Linked DNA regions of Homo sapiens: region 2 is linked to region 1. The links come from fine-mapping of genetic effects on gene expression. A gene starts in region 1. The other region holds a variant in brackets. All regions are shown on one strand. Distances are between the middles of the regions.

Region 1 (11,020 bases):
TGCCTAGGCTGGTCTCGAACTCCTGTGCTCAAGCGATCCTTCTGCTTCAGCTTCCCAAAGTGTTGGAATTATGAGTGTGAGCCCTGCGCCTTTACATCTTTAATTCTTTTGTTCTGATCTTAGAAGAAGAGTTCTTTCCCCAACTCCAATATAAGGATAATACCTTAATTTATGCACGGTGAAGGAGGAAAGACCAAAAACAGGCAAGACTCATCAACTCATGTTCCTGCTCAGGGACTTTGCTCCGTAACTTATTTCCCACCACACTTGGATACTCAACCTCATTCTCTTGGTTTCTGCCACTCAGCCAACAAATATATTCTAGTGTCTTCCATTCTTTTTTTTTTTTAAAAAAAAGAAAAAACATTTCATATTTTACCCTTTCTATGCTCTCCCTTCCCTGCTTATACAGCAGTCAACATTCCTGCTTCTTTACCTTCCATTCATTCCATAACCCCATCTCCTAATGCTTTACGATTGTGCCTTTATCTGAAGCTATTACAAAAATTAACACAGTCATACTGTAGTACACCAAACAAGCAGAATGGGGAAATTTGATTCCACAAATACTCCAATTTTGTCTATGACTATGCCTACTGATGGAAATTTGGACTGCAAGAGAGATGTAATTATGAGTTTCTCCTTGGCTTTAAAGTGCAGAAAATTGGAAATTGGAAACAGTAAGCCTCCTAAAATTTTCACAAGTTGGGCAGGGGGTGAGTATCTTATATTTATGTGTGCAGTTATATTGCTTTAAAAAGTTTTTCCAGCCTGGGCAATATATCAAGACCTCATCTATACTAAAAATTAAAAAAAAAAAAATTAGCTAGGCATGGGTGGCATACACCTGTAGTTCCAGCTACTCAGGAGGCTGAGATGGAAAGACTGCTTAAGCCCAGGGGTTCAAGGTTGCGGTGAGCTATGATCACAACTGCACTCCAGCCTGGGCAACAGAGCAAGATCCTGTCTCCACAAAAAAAGTTTCTTATATGTATATGCTAATAGTGTTTAAAAGGAAGAAAAGTCAGGTGCGGTGGCATATGCCTGTAGTCTCAGCTACTCAGTAGGCTGAGGCAGGAGGATAGCTTGAGCCCAGGAGTTCAAGACCAGCTTGGGCAAAACAGCGAGACCCCATCTCTATTTTTTTTAAATTTTAATAAAAAGAATAATTTCTTCTTACATCTCCATTAAAGATTAGAATAGAGTCCTGGGACTGACTTTCACTCCACTTCCATAGAAGCTAATAAAAAAATTAGTGTTATAATATCTTTCATTAAAATAATCTACTATCTTAAGATAGATATCTAAGTAAAAGAGCAAGGAACTCAGGAACTAAATATCAGGTTTGAGACCTTAATTAAATTACTTAACTTTCTCACCAATAAAGCAAGGTTATACTGTACTCTACTTCACAGTTTAATTCTGAAGATTAAACAAAATAACACATAAAAGCACAACATAGTTACAGGCACATGTTTAACACTTCCCTCATCTTAGCACAGTGCCATACTCCCAATAAGCATACAACTATTAAGAAGTAAAAGTGTACCAAAAAGGAGCAATATTAAAACTGTGTGAACTATGTGAAACAGAAATTCTAACAAAAGCACCATCTATTCATACTAATAATCTTCAAATGAAAAGCTTCAATTAGAAGTGAAAGTTACTAAAAGATATTCAAGTATTTTGAACGAATTCAACTAGTAAATACACTTGGATTACATTCCCAATGATTTCCTCTGAGAGATTACATATGAGGTACAAGATTACACATGATTTAATAAAATGGACAGAGAGCACACACAAAGCTGCAGTTTCCCAGGCTGAGAAAGACAAATCTAATTTGTCCTTCCTGGGGAGGAATGTATCTTAAATGAACAAAATTTCCTTAGAATACACAAAAGTAAATCAATGTATCAAAGGGATTAGGAAAAAAGGGAGCTTTTTCTCGAAATCCAAAATAATAATACGCATGACCTAAATGAATCTTCTCCAAATATTTAGGGGGGAAACCCCACTTTAATTGTTAGAATTGGTGCAAAGCAGCTGGATTTAGTAGAACGCAGCCCATCAACTGCTAATTCTGAAAAAAAAAAAAAAAAAAAAAAAAAAATCTAGGGGTGGAGAAAGCAGGCAATCTTCCCAATAAAACAACTGCCACAAAACACTGTACATACGTAAGAACATAAACATCTGTTAAAATATCAGTTTACACTGTTCCAGCCAACTTACAGATCAAGAGGAAGTATTTAAGGTCTAAAAAATAAATTACATTCTACTTTTAGTCACATTTTGCATGGGTGGCTACTGGACACTAGGAGTTATCGACGCGGATTCAAGACAAGGAAGACTGAATAATAAATCCAGTGTTCACATTCAAATGTGGGGGAGAGAAAAGGGCAGGCTCTGAGTCCATAAAGTTCTCCACACTCTGAAAACACTGCAAAAATAGTCCACATCTAAGGACACTTACCCTTGAAACTCCTTGGAGAGTGGCTTGGGAGACTTGCTGTTCAGATTTTTGAGGGGGAGTGATTTAAGAATGCTGCAAGATTGCAACTTTCAAACACAGGAACATAATCTAAAGTGTTTTTTTCTTTCAGTAAAGATCTCTCCCTGTCCTCTTCAAACAGTTGATCAGCACTCCCATTTTCACAAAATCCCTAATTCAAGTATAGAGCCCCTCCTCTCCCACAAAAAAATCAAAGCTTTAAAGAATATGCAAATAAAACACACAGATTATTTCCAATAATCCCTAACTCCTTCCCAATTGGGAAAAGAAAGGAGAAACGAAGGAACACGAAGCAAAAACACCAAAACACTCGGGGAAGGAAGGCGGCGAGATGAGAAAGTAGGAATGGGTGGGGGGAGGAGCACGGAAAAAAGTCCAGCTGATGCTGACACTTAATTGGAAGGAGAGGATGGAAAATATCCTGAAGATACGGGCTAGAAGGAAAGGACTAGGTGGGACAGGGGCGCGATAGAGTAAGTCCACGCAAAAGGCCTACCCAAGAGGGCCACTGTGTAGAAGGGAACACCAACAGGGAGCAAGACTCCCCAAGATTACTTCAAGGCCCCAAAGCTTAAGAGACAGGGCATAGGGAGATGGGGTGCTTCTCCACTGGCAATGCAGACACCGCACCAGACGTTTCGGGAGGCAAGTCTGCCGGAAGGGGTGAGGGGTTAACTGCGGGGGTTCGCAGACGTGGAAGGGGGTGCGGCCCCCGGGGTTGCTGGAGGAGAGCAGAGAGGAGGCCCACGGCGCATACCTTGTAGTAAACATCAAACTGGATGTTCTCGGGCAAGGAGCGGATGTCTCGGCGGGAGCGGATGTAGTTGTCCACGACAGCGGAGATGGCGGTGTTATAGAGAGTCTCTGGGATCCACTCTAGTTCCACGGCCGCCATCTTCCTTCCCTCCTCCTCCGCCTCCTCCGCCTCCTCCTCCCGAAGGCCCCCACCTCCCTCCGTAGCGAACCCCTCTGCGGCCCCGGAGGATTCGGAGGGGCGGTGGCAGCCACGCGGGCGCACGGCAGAAGGCACGGCCGCCCTGCCTCCTCCGGGGGCAAACTGAGGGACGGCGGCAGCGGACGCAGGCCCGAGTAAAAAGTGGGACAGAAAACAGCGGCCAGCCAGGCCAAAAGCGTCACAATCCCGGTTCGAGAGGAACCCGGGTTCCGTCCCAGCGCTGATCTCTGCAGGGGCGGGGCTGCGTGTGCGGCGTCATGACGTAAGCGCACGCCGGCGCGCCGGAGGGGAGGAATGCGGCAGGCGGAAAACTTAGGAAGAGCTGGATGCCTCCCACGGAGAGCGTCCCTTCCAAGCGGCCCCGGAGTGGAGTGGAGTGGAGTGGATAGGGGTAGACTTTTCACACGGGGACAAATTATTACAGGATATCTGCGCCCCCTGTTCCGAGTCACTCGGGGCCATCGGTTACTTCAGCAGGTTCTCTGCATCACGGACCCTTTTGAGGCTCAGGTAAAAGTTTGGATCCTCTCCCCACAAACGAGCAAAATTATCTGTACATTGAAAATTATGCATTGAGAAAATTCACATTACTCTAGAAACCCTTAGACTGCAGTTCCTAACCCAAGTTAAGAACCCGCGGTCCAGGAACTAGGGGTAACGATAGAAGAGAGACTTGTTTTTCTTTGTATAACCATTTGCACCGTTGTAACTTTTTGACCATGTTTCTTTATCCAAATGAAATTTCCGAAAAAAGAAAACTCCTGCCCCAGAACTTCGTAGGAAAACTAGCTTGATTATGGAATTACAAATAATAGTAAGAGAAAAAAGGCTAAGTGGTGGCCGTGATAGGACTTAATGGTATTTCAATTCCCAGAGTTACAGTGGCGGCTTCAAGGGATTGTTGAATAATTGGGAGTACTTGTTTCAGCTTCTTTCCTTCCTCAGCCTGAACATCTGCTGTTTATGTAACTTAATTTCCTAAGTCTGCGATTTCAAGAATTTGATGCAACATCTTTCTGTTCTAGGAATTTACCATGGAAATTATTGGCCATAATTGTTGGTGACACTATCAAACTCATAGTCACTCTATAACGATGTAAGTCCAGAAAACAGCCATAATAATAATGTCCTGATTGATATTTAGAGCTAAAAGAAGTGGAAAGAGTTATTTCAATTTACCCTTCACCTGGTACTTCAGTGTTAAGTGGTTAAATAATTCCACAAAAAATAAACACTCTTAATCTTCTTCAGTCTATATAAATTCTTACTCTATACTGTGAACCTAGGAAAGCTGTGGATGGCCTCAAGATCAGATTGCCAGTTTAGCAAGTAAAAAACTACAAGGCTGGGCGCGGTGGCTCACACCTGTAATCTCAGCACTTGGGAGGCCGAGGCGGGTGGATCACGAGGTCAGGAGATCGAGACCATCCTGGCTAACACGGTGAAACCCCGTCTTTACTAAAAATACAAAAAATTAGCCCGTGGTGGCGGGCGCCTGTAGTCCCAGCTACTCGGGAGGCTGAGGCAGGAGAATGGCGTGAACCCGGGAGGCGGAGCTTGCAGTGAGCCAGGATCGCGCCACTGCACTCCAGCCTGGGCAACAGAGCGAGACTCCGTCTCAAAAAAAAGAAAAAAAAAATTACAAGTGCCCAGTCACATCTTAATGTCAGATAAACAACAAATGGTTTTGAAATGTAAGTATGTTCTGTGCAATAGTTTTGCTCATGCCTTCGGAGCCACTCAAGTGTATCAGTTCATTCAGCAAATCCTTCATCACTTCTTAGACACTGGCGCTTTTGAAGATCAGGATCCCTGCCCCACATAAAAGAATAATTATTATCTCTGCAAATATTGCAGGGGACATATTTATACTAAAAACTTATTTGTGACCAGCCTGGGCAACATAGCAAGACCCCATCTCTACAAAAAAAAAATAGCCACATGTGGTGGTGTGCACCTGTAGTCCTAGCTACTCAGGAGGCTGAGGCAGGAGGATTACTTGAGCCCAGAATGTTGAGTGAGCCATGATCATGCCACTGCACTCCAGCCTGGGTGGCAGAATGAGACCCTGTCTCAGAAAACAACAACAACAAAAAACTTTGTTGTTCATCTGAAACTCACATTTAACTGGACACCTGTATTTTATCCAGCAATCCTACCTAAAGGGATCCATGAATCCCCTAACATTGAATGCACATGTTCTTGGACATTTTGGCTAAATCAGGACCCGTATTAAGCTCCTGTAAACAGGTAAAGGTGTGTCAGACACACATATTGATTGCTTTATGGACCTTAGATGCTGAGTGTATTAGTCCGTTTACACACTGCTAATAAAGACATAGCTGAGACTGGGCAATTTATAAAAGAAAGAGGTTTATTGGGTTTACAGTTCCACATGGCTGAGGAGGCCTCACAATCATGGTGGAAGGCAAGGAGGAGCAAGTCACATCTTAATGTGGATGGCAGCAGGCAAAAAGAGACAACCGAAAGGAGTTTCTCCTTATAAAACCATCAGATCTCATGAGACTACCACAAGAACAGCGTGGGAGAAACCACCCCCATGATTCAGTGATCTCCCACTGGGTCCCTCCCACAACACGTGGGAATTATCAGAGTACAATTCAAGATGAGATTTGGGTGGGGACACAGAGCAAAACCATATGACTGAGTTAGACATTAAAAAATGTATATAGTCACAAAGGGGACTCTGGATGGAAGGGCCTCTTGATCCCTTCTTCACTGCTTTCAGATTGAAAGTTATTCAGATGTGTATGATGGACTAGGAGGTCGTGACCAAGAGCAGATAAACTGCCAGAAAGGATAAGTCCCCTGAGAAGGACTTAGTCCTGGCAGTATTCATCACCTTCTAACTGAAGAGCCCTTGGGCCCTAAATGACCAGCAGATATACCCAGATACTATGTTGAGGACCTTGGGTGAACCTCTGAGACTTGCTGGCTTCAGATGCCAGCATGGCCACAGAGGGGTAGAGCACCAAGTGGGCCCTTGGGGTTCCTGATTCCAGGACTTGACTCCTAAATGGCATTTCTGACCTGCCCTGGTCCAGAGTAGAGCCTTCTGCCCTGACGGTTGAGTCTCTGCCCAGACAGCATTCACCACACACTGACTTGAGAGGCCGTGGGCCTTAAGGAAACATCCGTGGAAGTCTGGCAGTACTCCCTGTGGCCTGTGGTGATGGTGGTTACAGAGTGAGGCTAGTCTCCCTTTGGGAAGGAAAGGGAAGAGTAGGAAGGACTGTGTCTTACGGTTTGAGAGCCAGCTCAGCTGCAATACAGTATAACACCAGGTAGACTTCTGAGATTTTTTACTCTAGTCTCTGACTCCTGGACTGTACATCTGGACCTACCCAGGGCCTGGGGGAACTCGCCACCCTGAAGGGAAGGACACACGCCTGGATGGCTTTGCCATCTGCTAATTGTAGAGCCCCAGGGCCTTGAGTGAACATAAGCAGTAGCCAGGGAGTGGTTACAGCAGGTCTTGGGTGAGACCCAATGCTATGCTGGCTTCATCTCTAACCCAGTCCAGTCATAGTGGGGGTGGCCACAGAGGTACTTCTGTCACTCCACTCCCAGCTTTATGTGGCTCAGAACAGAGAGAGAAATTCCATTTGTTTGGGAGAAAGTAAGGTAAGAGAACAAGAGTCTTTGCCTGGTAATCCAGAGAATTTCTCCCAGATGCTGTCCTTGACCATCAAGGTGGTACCCCTAAGAGTCTGCAAGAACTTCAGAGAACTACAGTGTTATTGGGTTCGGGGTAATCCCTCCCCCAGCTCCAGGCAGCTCAGCACAGAGAGAGAGACTGTTTGTGTTTAAAGAATGTAAGGGAAGAGAACAAGAGTTTCTGCCTGGTAATCCAGGGAATTCCCTTGGATCTTACCCATGAACACCAAGGTGGTACCTCTACAAGTCAGCAAGAACCACAGCGTTACTAGGCTTGAGGTGCCCCCTAAAGCAGATACAGCTTAGATCACAGTAGTGAAGTCCTTTGAAATACCTGGAAAGCCTTCCCAAGAAGGACAAGTACAAACAAGCCCAGACACTGGAGACTGATAATATCCAACTCTTCAATGCCCAGAGAGTGAAGAATATCTATAGCATCAGCACCATCCAGGAAAACATGACCTCACCAAATGAACTAAAGAAACCACCAGAGACCAGTCCTAGAGAAACAGACATATGAGACCTTTCAGACAGAATTCAAAATAGCCATGTTGAAGAAACTCAAAGAAATTCAAGATAATGGAAAGAAGGAATTCAGAATTCTATCAGATAAACTTAACAAATAAATCGAAATAATTAAAAAGAAGCAGAAATTCTGGAGCTGAAAAATGTAATTAGCATACTGAAGAAAGCATCAGAATCTTTTTTTGTTTGTTTTTTTTTTTTTTGAGGTAAGGCCATACTCTGTTACTGAGGCTGGAGTGCAGTGGCAGGATATCAGCTCACTACAGCCTCAGCCTCACAGGCTCAAGCAGTCTTCCTGCCTCAGTCCCCTGAGAAGCTGAGACTACAGGTGTGTACCACCATGCTCGGCTTGTATTTTTTGTAGAGATAGAGTTTTGCTATGTTGCCCAGGCTGGTCTTGAACTCCTGGGCTCAAGTGATCTATCTGCTTCAGCCTCTCAAAGTTCTGGGATTACAGGTGTGAGCCACCACACCCAGCCTCGAGTCTTTTAGTAGCAGAATTATTCAAGCAGAAGAAAGAATTAGTGAGCTTGAAGACAGGCTATTTGAAAATACATGATCAGGGAGACAAAAGAAAAAGGAATAAAAAATAATGAAGCATGCCTACAGGATCTAGAAAATAGCCTAAAAAGGGCAAATCTAAGAGTTATTGACCTTACAGAGGAGGTAGAAAAAGAGATTGATGTAGAAAGTTTATTCAAAGGGATAATAACTGAGAACTCCTCAAACTTAGAGAAAGATACCAATATCCAAGTCCAAGAAGGTTATAGAACACCAAACAGATTTAACCCGAAGAAGACTACCTCAAAGCATTCAATAATCAAACTCCCAAAGATCAAGGATAAATAAAGGTTTCCCTGACAAAAGCTGAGGAATTTCAACACCAGACCTGTCCTTCAAGAAATGCTAAAGGGAATACTTCAATGAGAAAGAAAAAGACATTAATGAGCAATAAATCATCTGAAGGTACAAAATCACTGGTAATAGGACATAAACAGAAAAATAGAGAACATTATAACACTATAACCATGGTGTAGAAACTACTTATTCTAAGTAGAAAGACTAAATGATGAACCAATCAAAAATAATAACTGTGACAACTTTTCAAGACATAGACTATATAAGATATAAATAGAAATAGCAAAAAGTTAAAAAACAGAGATGAAGTTAAGACATAGAGTTTTTGTTAGTTTTTTTTTTTTTGCTTGTTTGTTTATGTAAATAGTGTTAAATTGTTATCAGGTTATAATAATGGGTCATAAGATAGTATTTGCAAGCCTCATGTTAGCCTAAAACCAAAAAACATACAATGGATACACAAAAAATAAAAGGCAGGAAACTAAATAATATCAGAGAAAATCACTTTCACTAGAGGAAAACACAGGAAGGAAACAAGACCACAGAACAATTAGAAAACAAATAAAATGACAGGAATAAGTTCTTTTTTTTTTTTTTTTGAGACAGAGTTTCGCTCTTGTTGTCCAGGCTGGAGTACAGTGGCACAGTCTCAGCTCACTGCAACCTTTGCCTCCTGAGTTCAAGCGATTCTCCTGCCTCAGCCTCCTGAATAGCTGGGATTACAGCCATGCGCCACCAAGCCCAGCTAATTTTGTATTTTTAGTAGAGACGGGGTTTCACCATGTTGGCCAGGCCGGTCTCGAACTCCTGACCTCATGATCCACCCATCTCAACCTCCCAAAGTGCTGGGATTACAGGTGTGAGCCACCGCTTCTGGCAAGAATAAGTTCTTATCAATGGTAATATCAAATGTAGATGGACTAAACTCTTCAATAAAAAGACACAGAGTGGCCGAATGGGTGAAAAAACAAGACCCATTGATATGTTGCCTATAAGAAACACACTACACCTATAAAGACACACATAAACTAAAAATAAAGGGTTGGAAAAAGATATTCCATGCCAATGGAAACCAAAAAAAGAGCAGGAGTAGTCAATGGGATATCATCTCACTCCAGTTAAAATGGCTTCTATGCAAAAGACAGACAATAACAAATGTTGGCAAGGATGTAGAGAAAAGGGAACCCTCATACACTGTTGGTGGGAATGTAAATTAGTACAACCACTATGGAGAATGGTTTGGAGGTTCCTCAGAAAACTAGAACTAGAGCTACCATGTGATCCAGCAATCCCATTGCTGGGTATAGACCCAAAAAAACGGAAATCAGTATTTCAAAGAGATACCTGCACTCCAATGTTTGTTGCAGCACTATTCACAATAGCTAAGATTTAGAAGCAACCTAAGTGTTCATCAACAAATGAATGGATAAAGAAAATGTGTTACATATACACAATAGAGTACTATTTAGCCTTAAAACAAACAAGATCCAGGCCAGGCGCAGTGGCTCCCACCTGTAATCCCAGCACTTTGGGAAGCCGAGGTGGGCGGATCACAAGGTCAAGAGATCAAGACCATCCTGGCCAACATGGTGAAACCCTGTCTCTACTAAAAATACAAAAATTAGCTGGGCATGGTGGTGCACGCCTCTAGTCCCAGCTATTTGGGAGGCTGAGGCAGGAGAATCACTTGAACGTGGGAGGCAGCGGTTGCAGTGAGCTGAGATTGCGCCACTGCGCTCCAGCCTGGTGACAGAGCAAGACTCCATCTCAAAAAAAAAAAAAAAGATCCTGTCATTTTCAGCAACATGGATGGAACAGGAAATCATTAGTGTTAACTGAAATAAGCCAGGCACAGAAGTACAAACATTACATGTTCTCACTTATTTGTCGGATCTAAAAATCAAAACAATTGAACTCATGGTCACAGAGTGTAGAAGGATAGTTACCAGAGGCTGGGAAGGGTAGTCGGGGGTTGGGAAGGAGATGGGGATGGTTAAAGGCTACCAAAAACTAGAAAGAATGAATAAAGCCTACTATTTGATAGCACAACAGGGTGACTGTAGTTAATAATAACAATTGTACGTTTTTAAATAACCAGAAGATCGTAATTGGATTGTTTGTAACACAAAGGATAAATGCTTGAGGAGATGAATACCCCATTCTCCATGATGTGATTGTTTCACACTGCATGCCTGTATCAAAACATCTCATGTATCCCATAAAAATATATATACTATGTACCCACAAAAATTAAAAATTTAAATCTTTTTTTGGGCCAGGTGCAGTGGCTTATGCCTGTAATCCTAGCTACTTGGGAGGCTGAGACAGGAGAATTGCTTGAACCTGGGAGGCAGAGGTTGCAGTGAGCCAAGATGGTGCCACTGCCATCCAGCCTGGGAGACTCCAGAGTGAGACTCCGTCTAAAATGTAGATATATTTCCACATCAAGGGATGCTTATTTAAAATGGGAGAATGATAGGGAAGCAATTCTA
Region 2 (11,661 bases), 90 kb before region 1:
GGAATGAATGGGTGTCACTACGGTATTGGGGAGATGCTCTGGTGACTGTGAGCAAAGTGCATGGAAGTGAGCGAGGCTAGAGGCAGGAGACCAAAGAGGAAACAACACCGATGGTCTTAGCTAACATGGTGGCTCGAGCCATCAGTCACAAATCCACAGCCTGCACACTAAAGTAAGGCTACTGATGTGTTTTGTTTGTCCTGGGTCATGTTCTACTTGTTGTTTAAAACACTTTAAGTCCGGGCATGGTGCCTCATGCCTGTAATCCCAGCACTCTGGGAGGCTGAGGTGGAGGTTTGTTTGAGCTCAGGAGTTCCAGACTAGCCAGGGCGATATGGGAAAACCCCATCTCTACAAAAAAATTAGCTGTTCATAGTGACGCACACCTGTAGTCCCAGCTATTTGGGAGGCTAAGGTGGGAGAATCGCTTGAGCCCATGTGTCAGTCTTTTCTCGCACTGCTAATAAAGACATACCTGAGACTGGGTAATTTATAAAGGAAAGAGGTTTAATTGACTCAGTTCCACGTGGCTGGGGAGGCCTCACAGTCATGGCAGAAGGCAAATGAGGAGCAAAGTCACATCTTACATGGCAGCAGGCAAGAGAGTGTGTACAGGAGAACTCCCCTTTATAAAACCATGAGATCTCATGAGACTTATGAGAACAGCATGGAAAAAAACCCACCCTCATGATTCAGTTACCTCCCACTTGGTCCCTCCCACAACATGTGGGTATTATTACAATTAGAGGTGAGATTTGGGTGGGGACACAGAGCCAAACCATACCATACCGCCCCGGCCCTTCCCAAATCTCATATCCTCACATTTTAAAACCAATCATGCGTTCACAACAGTTCCCCAAAGTTTTAATTCATTTCAGCATTAACCCAAAAGTTCAAGTCCAACATCTCATCTGAGACAAGGCAAGTCCCTTCCGCCTATGAACCTGTAAAATCAAAAGCCAAGTTAGTAACTTCCTAGACACAATGGGGTTGCAGGCATTGGGTAAATACACCCATTCCAAACGGGAGAAATTGGGCAAAATGAAGAGACTACAGGTCCCATACAAGTCCAAAATCCAACAGGGCAGTCAAATATTAAAGTTCCAAAATGATCTCTTTTGACTCCATGTCTCACACTGAGGTCATGCTGATGCAACAGATAGGTTCCCATGGTCTTGGGCAGCTCCAGCCCTGTGGCTTTGCAGGATACAGCCCCACTCCTGGCTGCTTTCACAGGCATTGAGTGTCTGCAGCTTTTCCAGGCACATGGTGAGCTGTTGGTGGATCTACCATTCTGGGGTCTGGAGGGCAGTGGGCCTCATCTGACAGCTCCACCAGGCAGTGCCCCAGTGGGAACTCTGTGTGGAGTCTCCTACCTTACATTTTCCTTCCATACTGCCCTAGGAAAGGTTCTCCATGAGGGCTCCACCCCTACAGCATACCTCTGCCTGGACATTCAAGCATTTCCATTCATCCTCTGAAATCTAAGTGGAGGTTCCCAAACCTCAATTCTTGACTTCTGTGCATCCACAGGCTCAACACCATGTGGAAGCTGCCAAAGTTTGTGGCTTGCACCTTCTGAATCTATGGCCCAAGCTGTACCCTTCTAGCCATGCTGGAGCAGCTGGGATGCAGGGCACCAAATCCTGAGCCTGCACACAGCAGGTGAGCCCTGGACCTGGCCCAGGAAAACATTTTTTCCCTTCTAGACCTCTGGGCCTGTGATGGGAGGGGCTTCCAAGAAGGTCTCTGACATGCCCTGGAGACATTTTCCCCATTGTCTTGGGGATTAGCATTTGGCTCCTCCTTACTTATGCCAATTTCTGCTGCCAGCTTGAATTTCTCCCCAGAAAATGAGTTTTTCTTTTTCTTTTTCTTTTTTTTTCACTAGTTGTCAAATGATCCTTTATTGAAATATTTTCCTTTGTGCTTAACTAGCTGGGCATTCCACAGCACCACTGTTGATGTCATCTATGATGTCATGAGGGTGGCGGCCATCAACATTACAACCCACAGAGACTGGGCAGTCCCCAGGATCTCTTTAATGGTTCCAGAGAGTTCTCTGGCTAAGGATCGGTGCTCCATCTGTCGAGCAAGGTTGACGATCTCATCAAAAGTGATATTCCCACTGTGTTTAATGTTTTTCTGTTTCTTTCTGTCTCTGGTGGTTCCTTGAGGGCTTTGATGATCAGGGCAGAGGCAGAAGGCACCACCTCAATCTGGGCCTGTCTGTTCTGAATGGTCAGTTTCACTGTAATCCTCAGGCCCTTCCAGTCACCCGTTGCCTTGGCAATGTCACCACCAACGTTTTTTGGAGACAGACCCAGGGGGCCGATCTTGGGGGCCAGGGCAGAAGTGGCATCTCCGGTGCACCTCAGGTATATGACTTTGATCTCGTTGGGGTCGAACTTTGGCGGCATGGTGGAGGCGGCTGGTGTCAGATGAACCCGGATTCGGGACAACCGAAGAAAGTTGCACCTTGGCCTCCTCCAAGCCGAAAGCCAAGAGCGAGTTTTTCTTTTTCTATTGCATTGTCAGGCTGCAAATTTTGTGAACTTTTTTTTTCCAAGCCAAACTGTATCCAGCTTTATTAAAGATACTTTCCATAAACAGTCATGGTATTTCAGGCAGGACATGGGCAGACAATCATTAACAGTATACAACAACTTTCAAACTCCCTGGATTCTTCAGTGGACTACCAAAAAGAAAGCCAGTATAAAACCCAATGAAGTCTTCATCTGATGCTCTGAACAGGGAAAGTTTAGAGTGAGGGTTGATATTTCACATTCAGCATGCTGTTAACTTTTCACAAACCAACCTTGACTTTCAGGAAGTGAAATGAAAATGGCAGAATTTATCTGAAGATTCACAATCTAGAAATGGAACCACTGCTCTTTTGACAGGTGCCATCTCAGTGGCATCTGGAAAGTCCAGATTGCCTGACACTGGTAACCAATGACTAGGGGTCAGGTCCCAACAGACGTCTGGGCTTAAGGGAGTTAAGTCTATGCTGAAAGATGGAAAGGGAGAAGAGGACATAAAAATAAATTTGTTTTTCCATACCGCAAGCCTTTTGTGCCAAGGTGGCCATGTGTATCAAAGCCAGGGAATCCCTCCTCCTGGGAGCCAAAAGGAAGTCTCTAAAAACTAGAAGGGAAAGGTGTTTTCCCCATATCAATCCAGCTTCGGAGTCATTCTATTAGTGACGTATGCCCCTTCCCCTAAAAACAACAATGAAGTGTTCTGTGTGCTAACAACGTAGCTTAAAAAAAAAAAGTAAAATAAAATTCTGCATTTTTATAAATCTTGATAAAAAATAGTATTTCAAACTGTATAGTCACCAGATGTACACAGTTATCAAAAATGCACACACTTCACTTGGCATCTCCAGCACCTTCAGCTTTCTGTGCCTGATCTGTTTTGGCATCTTCATTTTCTGCAGGGCTATTCCCTCCTTGCCAGCATCAGCTTTTCCCTTTTTCCCTTTGGGTACCTTCTCTCCCTTCTTTGCAGGGGCCATTTTAGGCTTGGGCTCCGGCTTTGGAAAAGCAGGTTTAGCAGACAACCTCGCGGATCTTTTCTGTGGTTCGTCCTTCGTCTTGGCTTTATCTCCTTTAGCATCCCCTTCAGCCTTTCTCTTGGTCATGGTGGCGGCGACGATGGCATTGAGACGTAGGCACTGGGCGCAGGATGCAGCGGCGCGCGGGCTTTGCTCGGTTCGGGGATCGTTCTCGCCTCTTCTTCCTCCAAATTTTGTGAACTTTTATCATTTCCAGGAGGGTAAGTAGGTCCAAACATTCCCCAAAAACACAAATGACATATTTTCCAGGGCTCTGCCTGAGGCAGCAGCATATAGGGTGCAGGGCTGCCCTGGAGCAGGAGAGGCCAGGGCAGATGTGTGTGACTCTTCTCCCTCCCTCCCTCGATTTGTGTTCAGAAGTAAGTATCGTCATAGACTGACAAGGCTAAAATGAATATCAATCTAGTCTCGAAGAAGGAGTTCAGGGAAGCATGAATGGGGGAAGCGGGGAGGAAGCGCCATTTCTTTCCTCCTTAGAGTCATCGCCTCCTGGAAGTGGCAAGATGAGACGGCCAAGGCATAGGCCTGGGGCCAGCCTGGCTTGGCTAGACCCTGACAGTTTTGTCAAAGCAGGGAGGATTTCAGAGAGAAGGGAAGCCGGGCTGGAGGGTGTCCATGATGACTATGGGCTTTCCAATGTTTTCTACTCCTAAGAGATTTCAGAAATGTGGCTGTTTTGGGAACAGTCCAAAAACACGAAGTATCCCCAGTAGTCAAGGCAGCACTGCCACCTAGAGGAATTGTGAGACACTACAGCCTTGTTCTTTCAACCAACATGTGCAAACCAGCGTGTGCAAAAGATGAAGATGAGAGAAGGGAGCCAGGGGTTCGTTTATCAACCTTGAGAACAATCGGGACGCATAAAGGCAAAAATGGACAACAAGTGAGGCTTGGTTTTGAAGCTTTCTTTCTTTCTTTTTTCCTTAGACGGAATCTCGCTCTGTCGCCCAGGCTGGAGTGCAATGGCGCAGTCTCGGCTCACTGCAACCTCCGCCTCCCGGGTTCAAGCGATTCTCCTGCCTCAGCCTCCCAGGTAGCTGGGCTTACAGGAGCGCGCCACCAAGCCTGGCTAATTTTTTTGTATTTTCAGTAGAGACGGGGTTTCACCATGTTGTCCAGGCTGGTCTCAAACTCCGCTGGCCTCCGCCTACCAAAGTGCTGAGATTACAGGCGTGAGCCACCACACCCGGTCAATTATTGTATTTCTTGTTTATTAACTGTCTTCTTCCCTTAGAATGTAAGTTCCACAGGGTTAGAGATTTTTGTCTGTCCTGTTCATTGCTGTATCCAAAGCAATTACAATAGTATTCAACATATAATAGGTACTTAGCAAACTTTTAATGAATGAACCAACCCAAAACAGAGAATTCTGACCAACCACCTCCTCGTTCAGAGGGGAAAACAGAGGCCCAAGAAGAAAGGCGACTTCTCCAAGGTTGTGCAGGAAGTCAATGGCAGAACTGGAACGACAACTCAGACCTGAGGTCCCCCAGGCCAGCGCACTTCCTACATACCAACGACATATGTTTCACCTACTCTTGGCCCACACACTCATTTCTCACAAGATAGAAATAACCCTCAAGACTAAAATGTATTACTTCTTCTCCTTCTTCTTCTTCTTTTTTTTTTTTAAGACAGTCTCACTCTGTCACCCAGGTTGGAGTGTAGTGGTGCAATCTCCACTCACCACAACCTCTGCCTCCCGGGTTCAAGCGATTCTCCTGCCCTATCTCCAGAGTTGCTGGGATTACAGGCGCCCGCCACCACGCCCAGCTAATTTTTGTATTTTTAGTAGAGATGGGGTTTCACCATGTTGTCCAGGCTGGTCT[C/T]GAACTCTTGACCTCAGGTGATCCGCCCACCTCAGCCTCCCAAAGTGCTGGGATTACAGGCATTAGCCACTGCGCCTAACCAAAATGTATTACTTCTTCTAGAATTTTTATTTTTTAAAAGTATCTCTACCCAAAAGTATAATGGTGGACTTGGGAACACCAGAAACAGGTTGTTGGAGAGGCTATTGGGAAGTGGGGAGCCTTGGTGGAAATCCCCAAATCATACCTTGGCCTATGCTGCCTTAGGGGTGAGGCTCATCCTAGAGAAAGTGCCTCACTATCGGAGCCTTCGAGAAGGGTCCTTTTCCTTAGAGAATAAAGGGTACTTTCCCTAAAGTTTTACTTTCAGTTTTTTTTGTTTTTTTTTTTTGAGACGGAGTCTCTGTCACCCAGGCTGGAGTGCAGTGGCGCAATCTTGGCTCACTGCAAGCTCCGCCTCCCGGGTTCACGCCATTCTCCTGCCTCAGCCTCCAGAGTAGCTGGGACTACAGGCGCCCAATGGTGCCCGGCTAATTTTTGTATTTTTAGTAGAGACGGGGTTTCACCGTGTTAGCCAGGATGGTCTCAATCTCATGACCTCGTGATCCACCCGCCTCGGCCTCCCAAAGTGCTGGGATTACAGGCTTGAGCCACCGTGCCCAGCTGTTTCCTGACTTTTTAATGATCGCCATTCTAACTGGTGTGAGATGGTATCTCATTGTGGTTTTGATTTGCATTTCTCTGATGGCCAGTGATGATGAGCATTTTTTCATGTGTTTTTTGGCTGCATAAATGTCTTCTTTTGAGAAGTGTCCGTTCATATCCTTTGCCTACTTTTTGATGGGGTTGTTTGTTTTTTTCTTGTAAATTTGTTTGAGTTCATTGTAGATTCTGGCTATTAGCCCTTTGTCAGATGAGTAGGTTGCAAAAATTTTCTCCCATTCTGTAGGTTGCCTGTTCACTCTGATGGTGGTTTCGAGTTTTAAATGGAAGAGGCTCCTAACCGCGAATGTAGTGACTAACTACTGCCTGACCCACTCCCACCCCAGTCTCTCAGGAGTCACCCGAAGTTTCCTCTTTATAATAATTATCACAAATATATGTAACTGAAGAGAAATAGCAGAGTTTTGCATCCATTCTCACTGGATTTTTGTGTCAAACTTGTGAGGGAAACTCCTTCTCCCCATTACAAAGAAAACAGGCTATGGCCAGGCTTGGTGGCTCAGATGTGTAATCCCAGCACTTTGGGAGACCAAGGTCGGTGGATCACTTGAGGTCAGTAGTTCGAGACCAGCCTAGCTAACACGGCAAAATCCCATCTGTACTAAAAATACAAAAATTGGCCAGGCTTGGCGGTGCGTGCATGTAATCCCAGCTACTCAGTAGGCTGAGGCAGGAGAATTGCTTGAACCCAGGAGGCAGAGGTTGCAGCGACCCGAGATTGTGCCACTGCACTGTAGCCTGGGTGACGGAGCGAGACTCTGTCTCAAAAAAAAAAAAAAAAAAAAACAAGAAGAAGAAGAAAGAAAAAGAAAACAGGGGCTTAGGGGCTGACTTAGTTGAGTTGAGATGCTGACTGCCCAAGCTTTTTGACTCCTCCACACACAAGGCTCTGTCTTTTTGATTTTTCTTGTTTTTGTAAACAGACATTTGCTTTTTTTTTTTTTTTTTTTTTTTTTGAGACAGAGTCTTGCTCTGTCGCCAGGCTGGAGTGCAGTGGTGCTATCTCGGCTCACTGCAAGCTCCACCTCCTGGGTTCATGCCATTCTCCTGCCTCAGCCTCCCCAGTAGCTGGGACTACAGGCGCCCGCCACCATGCCTGGCTAATTTTTTTGTATTTTTAGTAGAGACGGGGTTTTGCCATGTTAGCCAGGATGGTTTCGCTCTCCTGACCTCGTGATCTGGCCGCCTCGGTCTCCCAAAGTGCTGGGATTACAGACGTGATCCACCGCGCCGAGCCTTTTTTTTTTTTTTTTTTTTTTTGAGACAGGGTCTCACTCTGTCACCCAGCCTGAAGTGCAGTGACATGATAATAGCTCACTGCAGCCTCGATTTCCTGGGCTCAAGTGACCCTTCTGCCTCAGCCTCTTGAGTAGCCGGGACTACAGGCATGTACCATCATGCCTGGCTAACTTTAAAAATGTTTTTTTGTAGACACGGATTCTCGCCATGTTGCCCAGGCTGGTCTCAAACTCCTGACATCAAGCAATCCACCTGCTTCGGCCTCCCAAAGTGCTGGAATTACAGGCATGAGAATATGTGATAGGAAAAGAGTATACAGACTTGAAAAAAAATAGAACGTTTAGAAATGAAAAATAACTATTCTTGAGCCAGGCACAGTGGCTCAAGCCTGTAATCCCAGCTACTCAGGAGGCTGAGGCAGAAGGATTGCTTGAATCCAGGAGTTTGAAACCAGCCTGGGCAACAGTGAGAACCTGTCTAAAAACAAAACAGAAACACGCACCTCATAGCTAAGTGAAACAGGAGGCAACATCTGGGTCATTCTTAGCTCATAGAGAGAAATAATCAGTCATTACGTAACAGGAAAGAAAAATACTCAAACTATTTAAAGAGCAGCAGGAATGAAAAAGCCTGATTCTGTACTTGGAAAGAATTTAAATGCAAATCAACTTTCACTTGTTACACAAAAGTTCTAATTCAAAAATAAATTACACTAGAGGTTTTTCAAGGCACTTTCTGGAAGTGATCATTCACAGATTTTTTTCAAACTTATGCATCATATTTAACTGCTTGTGCAAAGTGAAGTCTGATTTTTAAAAATTATTGTAAAATACACATAAAGTTTACTGTCTGAACAATATATATTATATATATAGTTGTAAAATACACAAAATTTATTGTCTGAACTATATATTATATATAAAATATATAATATATAGTTATAAAATACACATAAAGTTTACTGTCTGAACAATACATATATATATCTTTTTTTTTTTTTCTTTTTTTTTAGGTGGAGTCTTGCTCTGTCACCCAGGCTGGAGTGCAGTGGCACAATCTCAGCTCACTGCAACCTCCGCATCCTGGGTTCAAGCAATTCTCCTGTCTCAGCCTCCCTAGTAGCTGGGACTACAGGCGCCCGCCACCACACCCGGCTAATTTTTGTATTTTTAGTAGAGATGGGGTTTCACCATGTTGGTCAGGCTGGTCTCAAACTCCTGATCTCAGGTGATCAACCCGCCTCAGTCTCCCAGAGTGCTGGGATTACAGGCATGAGCCACTGCGCCCAGCCCTGTCTGAACCATTTTATATGTAAAATGCACTAGTATTAATTTTCACAGTGTTGTGAAACCAATCTCCAGAACTTTTGCATCACACAAAACACAAACTCTAGATCCATTAGTGCAGTGGTCCCCAACCTTTTTGTCACCAGGGGTTGGCTTTGTGGAAGACAGTTTTTCCACAGATCGGAAGCAGGGAGAGGTGGGGTGCTTTTGAGATGATTTAAATGCATTAAATTTTTTTAAAAAATTGAGACAGGGTCTCACTGTGTCATCCGGGCTGGGGTGCAGTGGCACAATCACGTCTCACTGCAGCCTCAACCTCCCAGGCTCAAGCAACCCTCCCACCTCAGCCTCCTGAGCAGCTGGGACCACAGGCATGTACCACCAGACCCAGCTAATTTTTTGTATTTTTTGGTAGAGACGAGGTTTTGCTATGTTCAGGTCTCGAACTCCTGAGCTCAAGTGATATGCCTGCCTTGGCCTTCTAGAGTGCTGGGATTACAGGTGTGAGCCACTGTGCCTGGCCTCAAGCATATTACATTTACTGTGCACTTTATTTCTATTACTATTACATTGTAATATATAATGAAATAATTATACAACTCACCATAATGTAGAATCAGTGGGAGCCCTGAGCTTGTTTTCCTGTACTAGACAGTCCCATCTGGGGGTGATGGGAGACAGTGACAGATCATCAGGCATTAGATTCTCATAGGAAGTGCATAACCTAGACCCCTCACACGTGCAGTTCACAATAGGGTTCACCTAATGCTGCCACTGATCTGACAGGAGGTGGAGCTCAGGCAAGTGATGGGGATGGGCTGTAAATACAGAAGCTCTGCTCGTTCACCCACCCACTGCTCACCTCCTGCCACGTGGCCCAGTGCCTGACAGGCCACAGATCCCCGGGGGTTGGGGACCCCTGCATTAGGCAACTACTCCCCATTTTCCCCTATCCCCAGCTCCTGGCAATCACTATCCTACTTTCTGCTTCTATGAATTTGACTACTCTAGATGCATCATCTAATAGTATCATACTCTTTGTGACTGTCTTATTTCACTTAGCATAATGTCTTCAAGGTTTGTCCACATTATAGCTTATGTCAGAATTTCGTATATTCTTATGGCTGAATAATATCCCACTGTATGTATATGCCGTATTTATCAACAGGTTCTCATTCTCTTGCCCAGGCTGGAGTGCAGTGTGGTGTGATCACGGCTCACTCAGCCTCAACCTCCTGGGCTCAAGCAATCCTCCCACCTCAGCCTCCTGAGTAGCTGGGACTACAGGTGTGTGCCACCACGCCCAGCTAATTATTTTTTTGTATTTTTTGTAGAGACAGCATTTCACCTTGTTGCCCAGGCTGGTCTCGAACTCCTGGGCTCAAATAATCCTCCTGCGTCGGCCTGCCTCCCAGAGTTAGGAATACACATGAGCCACCACGCCTGGCCTGCCATATTTATCTGTTCATGCATTGTTAAGACATTTAGGTTGCTTTCGCTTTTGGCTACTGCAAATAATGCTGCTACACGGGTATATAAATATCTGTTCAAGACCCTTTCAATTCTTTTGGATCTATACCCAGAAGTTGAATTGCTGGATCATAAGAGTAATTGTTTTTAATTTTTTGAGCACAGGTGATAGTTTTTCACAGCAGATGCAGCATTTTACATTCCTGTCAACAGTGCACAAGGGCTCTCATTTCTGCACATCCTTGCCAACACTTACTTTCTGTAATAGCCATCCTAATGGGCATTTGTCTATAGAAATGTGCGCTTAAAGTAACTGAGTGTGGTTTGCTAACACACTCAGGACAGTATCTGTCACAGGATAAACTCTATGTTGAATACACAGATCAGCAAAGTTTACAAGTTGGAAAGAGTCTTAACACTGTAAGTTATATGGCCATATGGTAATTGCTTTCACAAAGCTCTAAAATGCTGCATTAATACCAAGTGGCAACTCAAACTTTAAGGGAAGGGTTCCCTTGATCTTTGAGCTTGACAGATGAGCAACACTATCCAGGAAATGGCATTCCACAAGGACGACGAAATCGCATGTTCAGAGGTTCAGTCATGGAGATGTAAAAAGAAACATTTTTAAATTCAGTATCACTGAAGGTGGCAGGCAGTGAAGCTGGTGCTGACTATATTCCAAGTGATGGTGGGATTTTGTCTACAATATTTTCTTCCTAATCTTTAAAAATATGGCTTCGTTTCCTACAACTGGTTTCTGAGTCCTTCAGATTTATGCTGTTTCATGGTGAAGTTTTTTAAAGACCTGATTTTACCCCCTTATTCATGTGAGGAAATAAAACACAAAGAGGGCTGGAATGACGTAACTCAGAATCTTCCAGTTCAGAGACAGCTGGAACTGAAACTCCAATCTAGGCTTTTCTTCACTATTCCAGCAGAACTTTACCAGGTCTCATCATTCATCTTCAGCCTTTAGAGTGAGAGGATTCTTAAAAGAATGGTATACTTTTGTAAAGACTAAAAAATCCCTTTGCATTAATGCAGTGCTTTGTCTTTTTCCAAGTGCTTTTCATCAGCACAATCTCCAGATGTTACCATGCGCCTCCTCTGCCACACATCTTAATTTTCTTGAACAAGAGCACTTTTGTTCTAGTTCCAACAGTTTCTCTCACACTGTTCTCTAATAAAAACAGTCTGCAAAGCTTAATCCCAACCAAAAGCAATCAAAACCAAATTGGAAACAGATACACTATGAATGCAGGAACACTATATTTATTAGGTCAATAATTCATTTTTAGCAATACAAGTACAGAATATATCACAATGCTGGTTACAAACATACTTAGTATGGTTTAATAGTTACAAATAACGGTGGGCACTACAAGTTGGTGAGAATGATATGAAAGGTCATCCTGACACAATGAAGAACCGTCTTCAAAAATCTATTTAATGACCTTAGATATTTCTATAGAAATTATTGTGGCACTATTAGTGGGGATTTTCACGTAAAGATTGTTAGTGTTTTGTTTTTAACTGTTCCATTAAGAACTTT

Alleles and levels. Alleles are on the strand shown, and positions count from the first base shown. SD is a standard deviation of normalised expression in the study named.
For the expression in gastroesophageal junction of the gene that starts at base 3,718 in region 1, T is the high allele of the variant in region 2 and C is the other (moderate effect, 0.65 SD a copy in GTEx).

Evidence for each region.
Region 2: its variant is fine-mapped to the expression of APPBP2 in gastroesophageal junction (GTEx, PIP 0.99).

Annotation. Positions count from the first base shown.
Region 1 is chr17:60,522,525-60,533,544 of GRCh38, forward strand. APPBP2 (amyloid beta precursor protein binding protein 2) reads right to left here and starts at 3,718. Exons shown (of 13, transcript NM_006380.5): 1 at 3,270-3,718. The coding sequence starts at 3,407. RefSeq lists enhancers at 2,629-3,337, 3,058-3,327 and a silencer at 3,408-3,547.
Region 2 is chr17:60,431,793-60,443,453 of GRCh38, forward strand. It overlaps APPBP2 (amyloid beta precursor protein binding protein 2), which reads right to left. Exons shown (of 13, transcript NM_006380.5): 13 at 11,366-11,661. It also overlaps the pseudogene RPL12P38 and the pseudogene HMGN2P42. Among named protein-coding and RNA genes, the nearest start is that of CHCT1, 15 kb to the left of the region's middle. The variant C/T (reference allele first, on the strand shown) is at 5,410.